3 linked regions of the Homo sapiens genome follow. The protein of the gene in region 2 purifies or fractionates together with the protein of the main gene of each other region. This does not show direct contact. Each region holds a gene or a part of one and is shown on either strand. Other genes may lie near its edges.

What was found.
Region 1: the proteins of PCYOX1 (region 2) and UBE3B purify together in Homo sapiens (co-immunoprecipitation; one large-scale study listed by IntAct). This does not show direct contact.
Region 3: the proteins of PCYOX1 (region 2) and POPDC2 purify together in Homo sapiens (co-immunoprecipitation; one large-scale study listed by IntAct). This does not show direct contact.

The regions. Positions count from the first base shown.
Region 1 is NC_000012.12:109,498,080-109,501,733, reverse strand, and holds part of UBE3B (ubiquitin-protein ligase E3B), read right to left. Parts: intron 3,502-3,654; coding exon 3,381-3,501; intron 2,102-3,380; coding exon 1,924-2,101; intron 364-1,923; coding exon 200-363; intron 1-199. UniProt on the Homo sapiens protein: E3 ubiquitin-protein ligase which accepts ubiquitin from an E2 ubiquitin-conjugating enzyme in the form of a thioester and then directly transfers the ubiquitin to targeted substrates.
Region 2 is NC_000002.12:70,274,983-70,278,410, reverse strand, and holds part of PCYOX1 (prenylcysteine oxidase 1 precursor), read right to left. Parts: coding exon 3,241-3,428; intron 2,898-3,240; coding exon 2,745-2,897; intron 1,678-2,744; coding exon 1,019-1,677; 3' UTR 1-1,018. UniProt on the Homo sapiens protein: Prenylcysteine oxidase that cleaves the thioether bond of prenyl-L-cysteines, such as farnesylcysteine and geranylgeranylcysteine. Only active against free prenylcysteines and not prenylcysteine residues within prenylated proteins or peptides.
Region 3 is NC_000003.12:119,650,503-119,654,156, forward strand, and holds part of POPDC2 (popeye domain-containing protein 2), read right to left. Parts: intron 1-3,654. UniProt on the Homo sapiens protein: Important for the maintenance of cardiac function.

The sequences.
Region 1 (3,654 bases), on a different chromosome or scaffold from region 2:
AGGCTAGTAAGCTATGATCATGCCACTGCACTGTAGCCTGGGCAATACAGTGAGACTCTGTCTCTAACAACAAGAACGATAACAACAAAAACAAAGTTAGAGCATCCCACAAACACAGCGGAACATCCATATAGGAAGAAACAGGAGCTGTACTTCAGCCAAGTGGAGCTACAGGGTTGGGCCTGCTCCCGTCACTCACTCTTCACTGGGAGCACATTCTGAGGGGATGCTGGCTGTGCGTGGGCTGGCTCCTGGCTCTCCAGTAGCTTCTTGCTCAGGATGTCACAGAAGAAGATCCGGATCAGAGGCACCCCCCACAAGAACTGCAGCTGTTTGGTGATCAAGTGCATTGACTCGTTAAGGCTAGGAGAGAGCAGAGGAGACCTGGTCTGTCAGTTCCATCTGATGCAGGGCCAGGGCCAGCCCACACAGTTCCTAATGGCCTTCCACTCGGAGCTGTAGCTAGGACCTGGCACTCAACATGGCAAAGAAGATTACAAAAATAAAAAGTGGAACTAACAAATCATTGCTGAGGGGCTGGTACGTCAAGGGCATTGACTCTTCATCTTGTCTGCTTTCCCCAGGTCCCCAAGCTCCATGAGTCACACTCTTCTCGAAGACACTTGCTACCACCCAGGTGACAAAAACAATCTTGTACCCACTGCACTGCCTCCCTCCTCATAGCTGGCTTGCAGGTGGTGGGGGGCCAAATCTAGATGACTCAGCAGCCTCCTCAGTGTTTCCTTGCATTCCAGGGGTTCCTTGCCTGACTCCACACTGCACTCAGCATCCCTCAACTTCCTGGAATCTGCTGTCACCTTCCTGCTCAAGAAGGTGAGGTGAGACTCCTAGTGGTTCCCACATTGATCATCATATTGTTAATAGCCGCCACCCCTGAGTACGGCCAGGCCTGCCTGCTGGTAGGTGCTTCACATGCATTATCTCATTCAATCTTTCTAGAAAGCCCTATCAAAGGGAGGGTGAAAATTATCCCCAGGTTTCAGATGAGGAAAGCAAGGCAAAGCAAGTCGTCCAAGTCCCTCCAAGAAGAGGAAGTGGAGCGGAGAGCAGGCTGTCTGCGGAGGTGCTGCTCTCCTTCACTTACCTCCCACAGCCTCCTGACTCTCAGCACCTCCGCCCCATCCTCCTCAGGCTGAGGTGTCACGCTGGGGCAGGCTGTTCCCTAGCAATGAGTCTTTTTAACTAGATAGGACCCAGGGATGTCACTCAGGTACAACAAAAGAAAAATTTGGGGATTTCCTCCCCAGGCCTTTAGTTTTCTGCTGCAAGGGTAACTGCCAGGGACCCCATGCCTCGAGCAGATATGTGAACAAGAAAACAGCTGGGGCAGCAGAGCTGGTTCCTCTCCAGAAACCACTTTATCTCAGCTCAGGTAGATATTTCAAATTCATGAAGCTGCACCTTACTTGATCTCCCTTCTTCTAGTCTAGTGTTTCTCATGTTTTTAAGTTCATAATTACACTTTTAAAAATTTATATTCCACCTCTTGAAAAGGATTTTGGGTGATTTCTATTCCCTTTGAATCATTTGTCTTGTTTTAGCATCTCCAAAATATGGCAGTCTAGTCAAAAAGTGACAGTGAAGAAGAAAAAACATTGATAAGGTCCATAGCTGAATGGAAGGAACAAAATACAAAATAATAGGATTTCAATTTTGTAAAAAAGGATCAGTATTTCTAGATAGGAAAACTGACAGGATGTTCACTCAAGTTATCTTTGGTTTACAGGATAATGGGCTGGTTTTTATCCTCTTTTGTTCTTACTCACAATTTATTAATATATAATGAATACATATTATTTTTATAATAAGAAACAAAACACCACAAGCTGGAAGAAAGAAAGAAGGAAGAAGAAGATGGTGGGAGAGAGGCAGGAAAGACAGTGATTTGCATCTGGGACTCACCCATAATCCACAGATTGGGAGAACCAGCCAAGGACAGGATGCCAGTGGGTCAGGTTGGACTTCTTCTGAGACACATACTTCCGACAGTAGCACAGCGTCTGGGTGAGCAAACTCACGAACCCATCTGTCTCCTCCTCTAACACTCTGGGGCTGAGGGAGCCCAAGTGTAGGAGGTTGCCTACAGAGAGAGAAGGCTGAGTGTGATGGGCCCAGACAAACATTTTGGTGCCTCCCGGCCCTGCTCCCTGCCTGTGGCTCAGGCGGCCACATCCCATGTGCAGCAAGAAATTTCCACATAAGGGGCACCTGTCAATGCCGGAGGCTGCTGTGTGGTGCAAAGGTAAGAAACGGGCCAAGCTGACTTCAAATCCTGGCTATGCCACAGACAAGGTGAGCCGTGGCCGTCAACCCATGTCTCAAACTTGTTTCTTCATTTGTAAGATTGGAATGATGATCCCTACTCTCCATATGAGGATGAAGTGGCAGGTAAAATGTTAGGCACACAGAGGTAGGTGATATTTAGTTAGTGTTACATTTTAATATTATATTAATGCTTAAAAATCAAGGGTTAACATAAGAAATGGTCTTTGAAGAGTATCTGAGTGTCGTGGGAAGTCGCTGTTATTCAACGTTCACCAGTTAGTCAACGTCACTCGTGTGAACATTCGCACCAGAAACTCCTCATGAAATTTGGCCCCAGGGAAGTTTTTATCTCAAGTCTGTAATCTCGCAGGCTGAGGCGTGTGGATTGTTCGAGCCCAAGGAGACTAGACTGGGCAACATGGTGAAAAACCCCGTCTCCACTAAAAATACAAAAATTAGTCGGCCGTGGTAGTGTGCGCTTGTAGTCCCAGCTACTCAGGAGGCTGAGGTGGGAGGATCACCTAAGCCCAGGAGGTAGAGGATGCAGTGAGCCATGACTGTGCCACTGCAGTCCAGCCTGGGTGACAAAGTGAGACCCTGTCTTCAAAAAAAAAAAAACAAAAAAAACTTTTCCTATCTAAAATAAATTTAGGCAAGGAGAATTCTGTGCCTCTGCCTCAAATGCTTCTATTCATAAACCCTTTCTTCCATCTACAATGAAAACACTGTAAAATAGGTAAAGCAGGCGCTGCTCTGATATAAGCCCCACCTAACTACTCCCTCCCTTCTCTCTTGAGATGGGAATTATCCAGGCAATTCACCACATTTTCACTTTCTCCTTGACTGCCAGGAAGCTAAAGGCTGACATCTAATGTTCATTAACAGTCACTTAACTAGTTTGCCAGGCTGGAATATTTTCCATGTGATTTTTATTTACATGTCTATTTTAACTGTCTATCTAAATACGTGTTTTTTATTGTAAGCACTTCCAATTGTTACAGAAAACAACCAAATCTCTAGAATAGTGACAGGCAAAACACTCGGGCTTTCCCTGATGGCCAGGACACAATCAAGTTCCAGCCACGGATACTTACCCATTAGACAAAGCGTATGGCATCCTTCTAAACTTTCACATACATCACGGCATCGATCTTGGTCTCTTAAAAATATGATGAATTTACGAAGCATGTCATGGGATTCTAAAACAGTGAGGCGCTGCAAAGAATAGCAGACCGTTAAATCAGAAACTGCCAGAAACAGTTTCCTGTAGAGAGTGAACTTGATCACTTGCAGATCACCCGTGGTTATGGAGGATGTGCTAGCAAACACCAAGAAGAAAATGGACAGACAAGAACCCACTTCTTTGGG
Region 2 (3,428 bases):
GATACAGATTGGGCTTCTTAGGACTTCTAAGGCACTAAAACCCTTTGTAGGCATTTTCACACCCACATTGGTGATTCCCAACCCTGGGTGCACATTAGAAACTTTAAATAGCTACAATGCTAAGGTCCTATCCTCAGTCTTTGAATCTGAATCTCTGGTTATGGGGGGGTCTCAGTATTTTTAAAAGCTCCTGAAGTGAGGATTTAATACTAGAATGCCAGTTTCTTAATTCAGTAGCCCATATTTGCTTTTCATTTTACTTGAGATTTTTGTTTAACATCTTCAAGTTACATTACTAAGACTTCTAAATTTCACCCCTAATCAAATCAAGACAGAAGAATCAAAAGACAACATTCTGAAAGTCAAGGCTTTAGGCATGGGCACACGTACTTCAAACCGGTATGAAATTACTAAGAGTCAGGCATAAGACACCAGCTCCCATAAATTTTATCTGACTGAAGATTATATCTAGCTGTAAAATTCAAAAGGACTACTCCCCAACTAAGATGTCTTTAAGTTCTCCCTCAGGTACTCACCTTAAAATGCTCTACAATTTTGATCAAAATCCAGCGCGCCACTCCCAGACCTACTGAATCAGAATCTTCAAGAGAGGAGCTTGAGAATCCATATGGTTTAACAAACTCCAGGTGATTATTTTTATTTACTTTTGAGACGGAGTTTTGCTCGTGTTGCTCAGGCTGAAGTGCAATGGTGAGATTGGCTCACTGCAACCACCACCTCCTAACTCCAGGTGATTCTTATTATCAGACAAGTTTAAGAAAAACTCCTAATGGATAGTGAAAGAATACTTAAGAAATTTTGGAGATGGCATAAGTGCAATAGCTATACCTTCACACTTAATTAGAACCGTGTGTTTTCCTATGACCAGCAGGGATTACTTTTATTAAACAATGATAATGGCAAAATATCTGGTTCAAAATCATCTCTGCTCAGATTTTGTTCTTTTTTGCCACTGATAGTCATTTGGAACTAGGAGGGGAAAAAGGAGTGTGTCACTTCATAGTTCAGTTTTAAGTTTCTCATATAAGCCATCCTGATCAATCATGTCTGTGTGCCCGTTCCAGCGGTGATAGGCAAGGAGTGCAGCGTTGTGGGCTGCAATGGCACTCATCTCCATGGCACTTGCTGCACACTCTATGCCATTGAGGTAATAAAGTCGATCATGGAGAATGATAGAGGGGCATTTCTCCGGGGGCTTATAGTGAGGATATGCAAGCCATGGCTTCTTCACAGCATAATCATAGGACAGAAAGAGCTTTAAAATTTGTGCTTTAGTAAGAGTTTCTTGGGAAAAGATCTTCCAAACATATGTTCCATCTGTTGATGGCTCAGGATCTTCCTTTTCTCTCACAGAGGGCACAATCCCAATACTGTTAATGAACAAATCTGAATTATCAGTGGTTAAAACTGTATTAAGGCCAAATTTATCTATGGGTCTAGAGCTAAAGATAGATGTATTCAATTCCCCCTTAACTAAAGTTGTCACTATATGTTGATAATATTGATGGAATTCCTCAATTGGAGGATCAAAGTTGAGAAAAGTAATATTCGACATTTTTCGATTCAACGGAGTGGCCACCAAGACGATGTCATAGAAGTCTGAACGAGTCTCAGTTCCAATTTGGTAGACCACTTCATACATCTTTGTTGGATTTCCTAGAGGAAATAAGGAGGCATATATTTGTTTAGTGTTTCTAACATACCTTCTAAAAATAATTGTATACCTTCTTCATAATTTCTCTATAATTCTAAAGAATTGAAGAAGTTATATCCCTTAAGATAGTTGTCCCTTGCATTTTTATTACATTGAGGCCAATTTCTTATTCAGAATGTCAGTAAGTACAAAATACAGAATTTTTACTTTTGAAGGTAAGATTATCTTTCGGCCGGGCATGGTGGCTCACACCTGTAATCTCAGCACTTTGGGAGGCCGAGGTGGGTGGATCACGAGGTCAGGAGATCGAGACCATCCTGGCTAACATGGTGAAACCCCGTCTCTACTAAAAATACAAAAAATTAGCCGAGCGCGGTGGCAGGCGCCTATAGTCCCAGCTACTCGGGACGCTGAGGCAGGCGCCTATAGTCCCAGCTACTCGGGACGCTGAGGCAGGAGAATGGCGTGAACCCGGGAGGCGGAGCTTGCAGTGAGCCGAGATAGGCCACTACAGTCCGGCCTGGGCAAAAGAGCGAGACTCCATCTCAAAAAAAAAAAAGATTATTTTTCAAATCCAAGGAGTGATGCCACAGCACTTAACTACACTGGGGAATTTTTTTTTTTTTTTTTTTTTTTTAGATGGAGTCTCACTCCGTCACCCAGGCTAGAGTGCAGTGGTGTGATCTTGGCTCACTGCAACCTCTGCCCCCTGGGTTCATGTGATTCTCCTGCCTCAGCCTCCCGAGTAGCTGGGATTACAGGCACCTGCCACCACGCCCGGCTAATTTTTTGTATTTTTAGTAGAGACAGGGTTTAACTATGTTGGCCAGGCTAGTCTTGATCTCCTGACCTCAGGTGATCCACCCTCCTTGGCCTCCCAAAGTACAGGGATTACAGGCATGAGCCACCGTGCCTGGCCCATTGGGGAATATTTCTATATGGTACAATATATACAATTTCAAGTTTCATCATTTTAGAACTGAGTAAGAGATGACAGAAGAGAAGTGTTTCTCCCTGAGCAATCATTTTCTGCAGGGGATATCAGGAACAATAAGAAATTCAAGCTTACCTGTGTACTTGGTCTTTGTTTTCTCCTCGATGTACATTACTGAGCCAGATATAAGATTGCTTTTGGATGCCTGCAGAAGCCCTGAGCAAACAAGTTTATTGCCACCTTCTACTGCCCAAAGGCCAGAATCAGAACAGGACAGTGACACCGCCCCTGTCAATAGGAGGAAAAATGTGTTTTAATTCTGACTTTTTGTAAGAGGCTCTCTACCCACTCTCCCTTCCCAATTACATGTTCTACTCCAAATGTCTCTAGACATTGCTAAATGGCCCCTGGGAGCAAAATCTCCCCCAGTTAAGAATTACTGAACTAATGAAAGCTAAAGACCCTCTCCCCCTAAAAATGCACATCTACATACGCACAATTTTGCTAACAATGTCTGAGGTTCACAGAGAAAAGTAGCCTCCAATCCACAGCCTAAAGTCAGGAACCACCATAGCATCAGGTAAGCCCCTCTGTGAACTAATGTCCACCACTGTTTCAAGCCCTGGCTTACCCACAAAGGCATTGATGTCCGTGCTTTGGCCATAATTGACCCTCATAACAGGAGCAATCATTTCATTGAGGAACTTCTCAGAAAAGCCGGCCTTTTGCAAGGTTTCAAGAAGTGTTCGATTAAGCATTCCAAGGAAGTCATCTCCTCCTAGAGCATGAAGTAATTTTTCGACACTACTGAAGGCATAG
Region 3 (3,654 bases), on a different chromosome or scaffold from region 2:
TTTTCATGGCATCCATCAATTTCCCCTTCCTCTTTGATATATCTTCTTCACTTGGTTCCCAGGATGCCATACACTCCTTGCCCAATCTCATGATTGTTCCTTTTCAAGCTCCTTTGCTGCTTCCTCCTTTCCTCTCCAACTCCTCACCACTAAAGTATCCCAGGGCTCCGCTCTTGAACCATTCCCTCTTCCATCCACACTCACTCACTTGGTGAGCTCATCCTATCCAATGGCTTTAAATATCATCTGCATACAACCAACTCCCAAATTTATGTCTCAGGCCCAGATCTCATTCCTGAATTTCAGACTTAAATATCCAGTTGCCTATGCAGCATCTCCATTCAAATGTCCACAGATGATGCAAACCTAACATCAAACACTGAACTTCCTAGTCCCCCGAAAGCAGCTCTACCTGCAGCTTTCTTTGTCTCAGTTGACAGCAGCACCACCTGTCCAGTTGCTCAGGCCAAAAGCCTTAGAGTCTTCCTTGATCTTCTCTTTCTCTCACATACTATATCCAACCCTTTAGAAAATCCTTTTGGCTGTATCTAGACAATATATGCTATGGCCCTACATGATCTTGCTACCTCGTCACCTCTCCAACTTTCTCTCCTGCTATTCCCTCCCCTTCCTCTCTCCATTCCAGGTCCACTGTCCTCCTTTCTGTGCATCAAACACACTGGCCCCACCTCAGGGCCTTTGCACTGGCTCTTTCCTCTGTCTGATATGCTTTTCCCAGATATTCACAGACCTCACCTGTCATCTCTCTCAGGTTTTTGCTCAAATGTTATCTGCTTAACAAGGATTTCCATGACCACCCTATTTAAAATTGCCACCATTTCTCCCTTGCACTACTCTAGGTTTTTTTTTTTAAACTAGCAGTGATTATCCTCTAACAAATTATATAATTTACTTATTCATTATGCCTATGGCTTTTTGTCTCCCCCATTAGAATGTAAATTGCATGAGGGGAGGGACCTTCATCTGTTCTGTTCACTGATATATTTCAAATCCTTTTAACAGTGCCTGGTATATACTAAGTTTTCAATAAATATTATTGAAGTGAATAAATGAATCAAGGGAAGACAGCCAATCTTGTATATTGCAAAACAACCTAATGTCACTTTCTTCCCCCACCCCACCGCCCCCCTGAGACGAAGTCTTGCTCTGTCACCCAGGCTGGAGTACAGCGGTGTGATCTCAGCTCACTGCAATGTCCACCTCCCGGGTTCAAGCAATTATCCTTCCTCAGCCTCCCGAGTAGCTGGGATTATAGGCACCTGCCACCACCCTGGCTAATTTTTGTATTTTCTAATAGAGATGGGGTTTCACCATGTTGGCCAGGCTGGTCTCAAACTCCTGACCTCATAATCCAACTGCCTCGGCCTCCCAAAGTGCTGGGGTTATAGGTGTGAGCCACCGCGCCCAGCCTCTAATGTTGCTTTCTCATGTCCTGTATAAAATCCTTCCCCAAAGGTCCTCCTGAAATCTGCTTCTTGATTGGTTCTCCCATATATATAGACATATCTGTTGTAACGTTTTGACAAGTATTTAGCTTTTTTTTTAATACTCATCTCAGATGTTGGTTGAATGAATTAAATGAGATAACCTATGTAAATAGGACTTAGGTCCAGTAAGATAGGATGCAAATTAGAAAAACAGTGATGATTTCTGTGTGATCCCTCCTGTGCTGTGTTCTTGGTGACTAATGAGTGTCACAGTGCCGAACACACAATGAATTCTGACTTAATTGAATTGTCGAGAGGTGTGCTGGAATGCTGATTGATTTATATTAGGTACAATGTGAATTATAATTTAGGCTGTCACTGTGGATTGCTCTCAGTCAACAAAGACTATGTAATTGCAAAAGGCAAGGACAGGATGAACTCTAACTTAAGATAACACTTGACATTTGCAAAGAGGAAATGGGACTTTACACAGCCAATAGCAAATGTGTGGCTCTCATTACTCCCAAAGGAGGTACACGCTAAAAATATAAATGGGAGGAACATGACCATACCTACATTCCAGGCTGAGAGGCCATGTGAGGTTACAGCCCTTCCTCTTGAGCGTAACTTAGGGGAGGACACCCGGCTTACCCACCACCTGTTCCTCCGTGTCAGTGTCAGAAAGAGGCCTGGTCCAGCTGGCTCAGGTCCTGACTGAGCCCTCCTGGAGGTTCTCATGTGCCTGAGAGAGTTCCTGAAGAAGGTTTCTGGACTAGTTAGGGAGGGTGTGTGGACGGAGGTCAGGGTAGGAACATGATGGAAGTGGATCTGTGGCTGGTGACCCTGGCAGTGGGATCAGGACTGCCTCTCAGGCTCCATCATCACAGAGCCAAGTGTCAGGGTGGGGGCAGAAGCAGGCCCTGCCAGGTAGCACTGCCCGGTGTGTGTCTGTTCCGGGGTTGGCTCATATGTTGGCTTGAGGGACTCCCTGATAAAAGTAGTAGGAGACACATGGAATCCAGTGTTTCCAGGTCCAGCAAACTATCCAGGCAGGGGAGTCCTTAAAAGGGTGAGTGAGTGTGTGTGCGCGTGTGTGCATGCGTGTGCATGTGTGTGTGTGTATGTGTGTGTGTAAACTCTACTCTTCTGGTGACCTTCCCATTTTAATAAAGAACAGAAATGGTAGATCCAGGCAACTTGGCTTTGTCACTTTCTAGCTGAAGACCCTGGGCAAATTACTTGATGTTTTTGGGCCTTAGTTTCCTCAGTTGTTAAATGGAGTAATAATCATATTCAACCCATAGAGTTGTTATGAGAATCAATGAGGCAATATGATACGTAGTGCCTGCCACATGCTAGCCATTCAATAAGTGAGAGCTACAAAGAAAGTGACCAAAGCCTGAGGGATTGGCAGAGATAAGAAGAGTAGGGGCCAGGCAGCCAGGAACCTGCATTGGAGCATGTATGTGAATGCCCCATGGAGTCCTCTGGGACACCAGCTGCCCAGTGGCAAACCAGTTCAGCAATTCTTTTTTTTTTTTTTTTGAGACGGAGTCTCACTCTGTCGCCCAGGCTGGAGTGCAGTGGCGCAATCTCGGCTCACTGCAAGCTCCGCCTCCCGGGTTCACGCCATTCTCCTGCCTCAGCCTCCCAAGTAGTTGGGACTACAGGTGCCCGCCACCATGCCCGGCTAATTTTTTGTATTTTTAGTAGAGACGGGATTTCATCGTGTTAGCCAGGATGGTCTCGATCTCCTGACCTCAGGATCCACCCACCTCAGCCTCCCAAAGTGCTGGGATTACAGGCGTGAGCCACCGCGCCCGGCAAGCAATTCTTTACTGAACAGCTGCTGTGCTCCAGGTACTTTCCTTTAGAGTCTGGGAACAGAGAGGGAAAAGCCTAGATTTGTACTTCAGAGTTCACTGTGCAGAAGACAGAAAGGAGACCAGATTATTAGAACAGACAGCAAGATGTGCACCAGTTAGCATAAGTAAAAGGACTAGAACAGGCACACAGGAGTGCTAGGCTGTGGGGTGGAAGCTGGTGAGGCTGTGGGGTGGAAGCAGGCTTCACAGTGGAAGTGAGGTTCCGTGGTCTCATCTAGAAGGGGAAATGCATTTCAGAGGGGAGAGTAGGGGCCAAGGCATAGAGCTGCAAAACAATGTGGTGTGTTTAGGGAAGTACTAGTGGTTCAGCATGGCTAGTA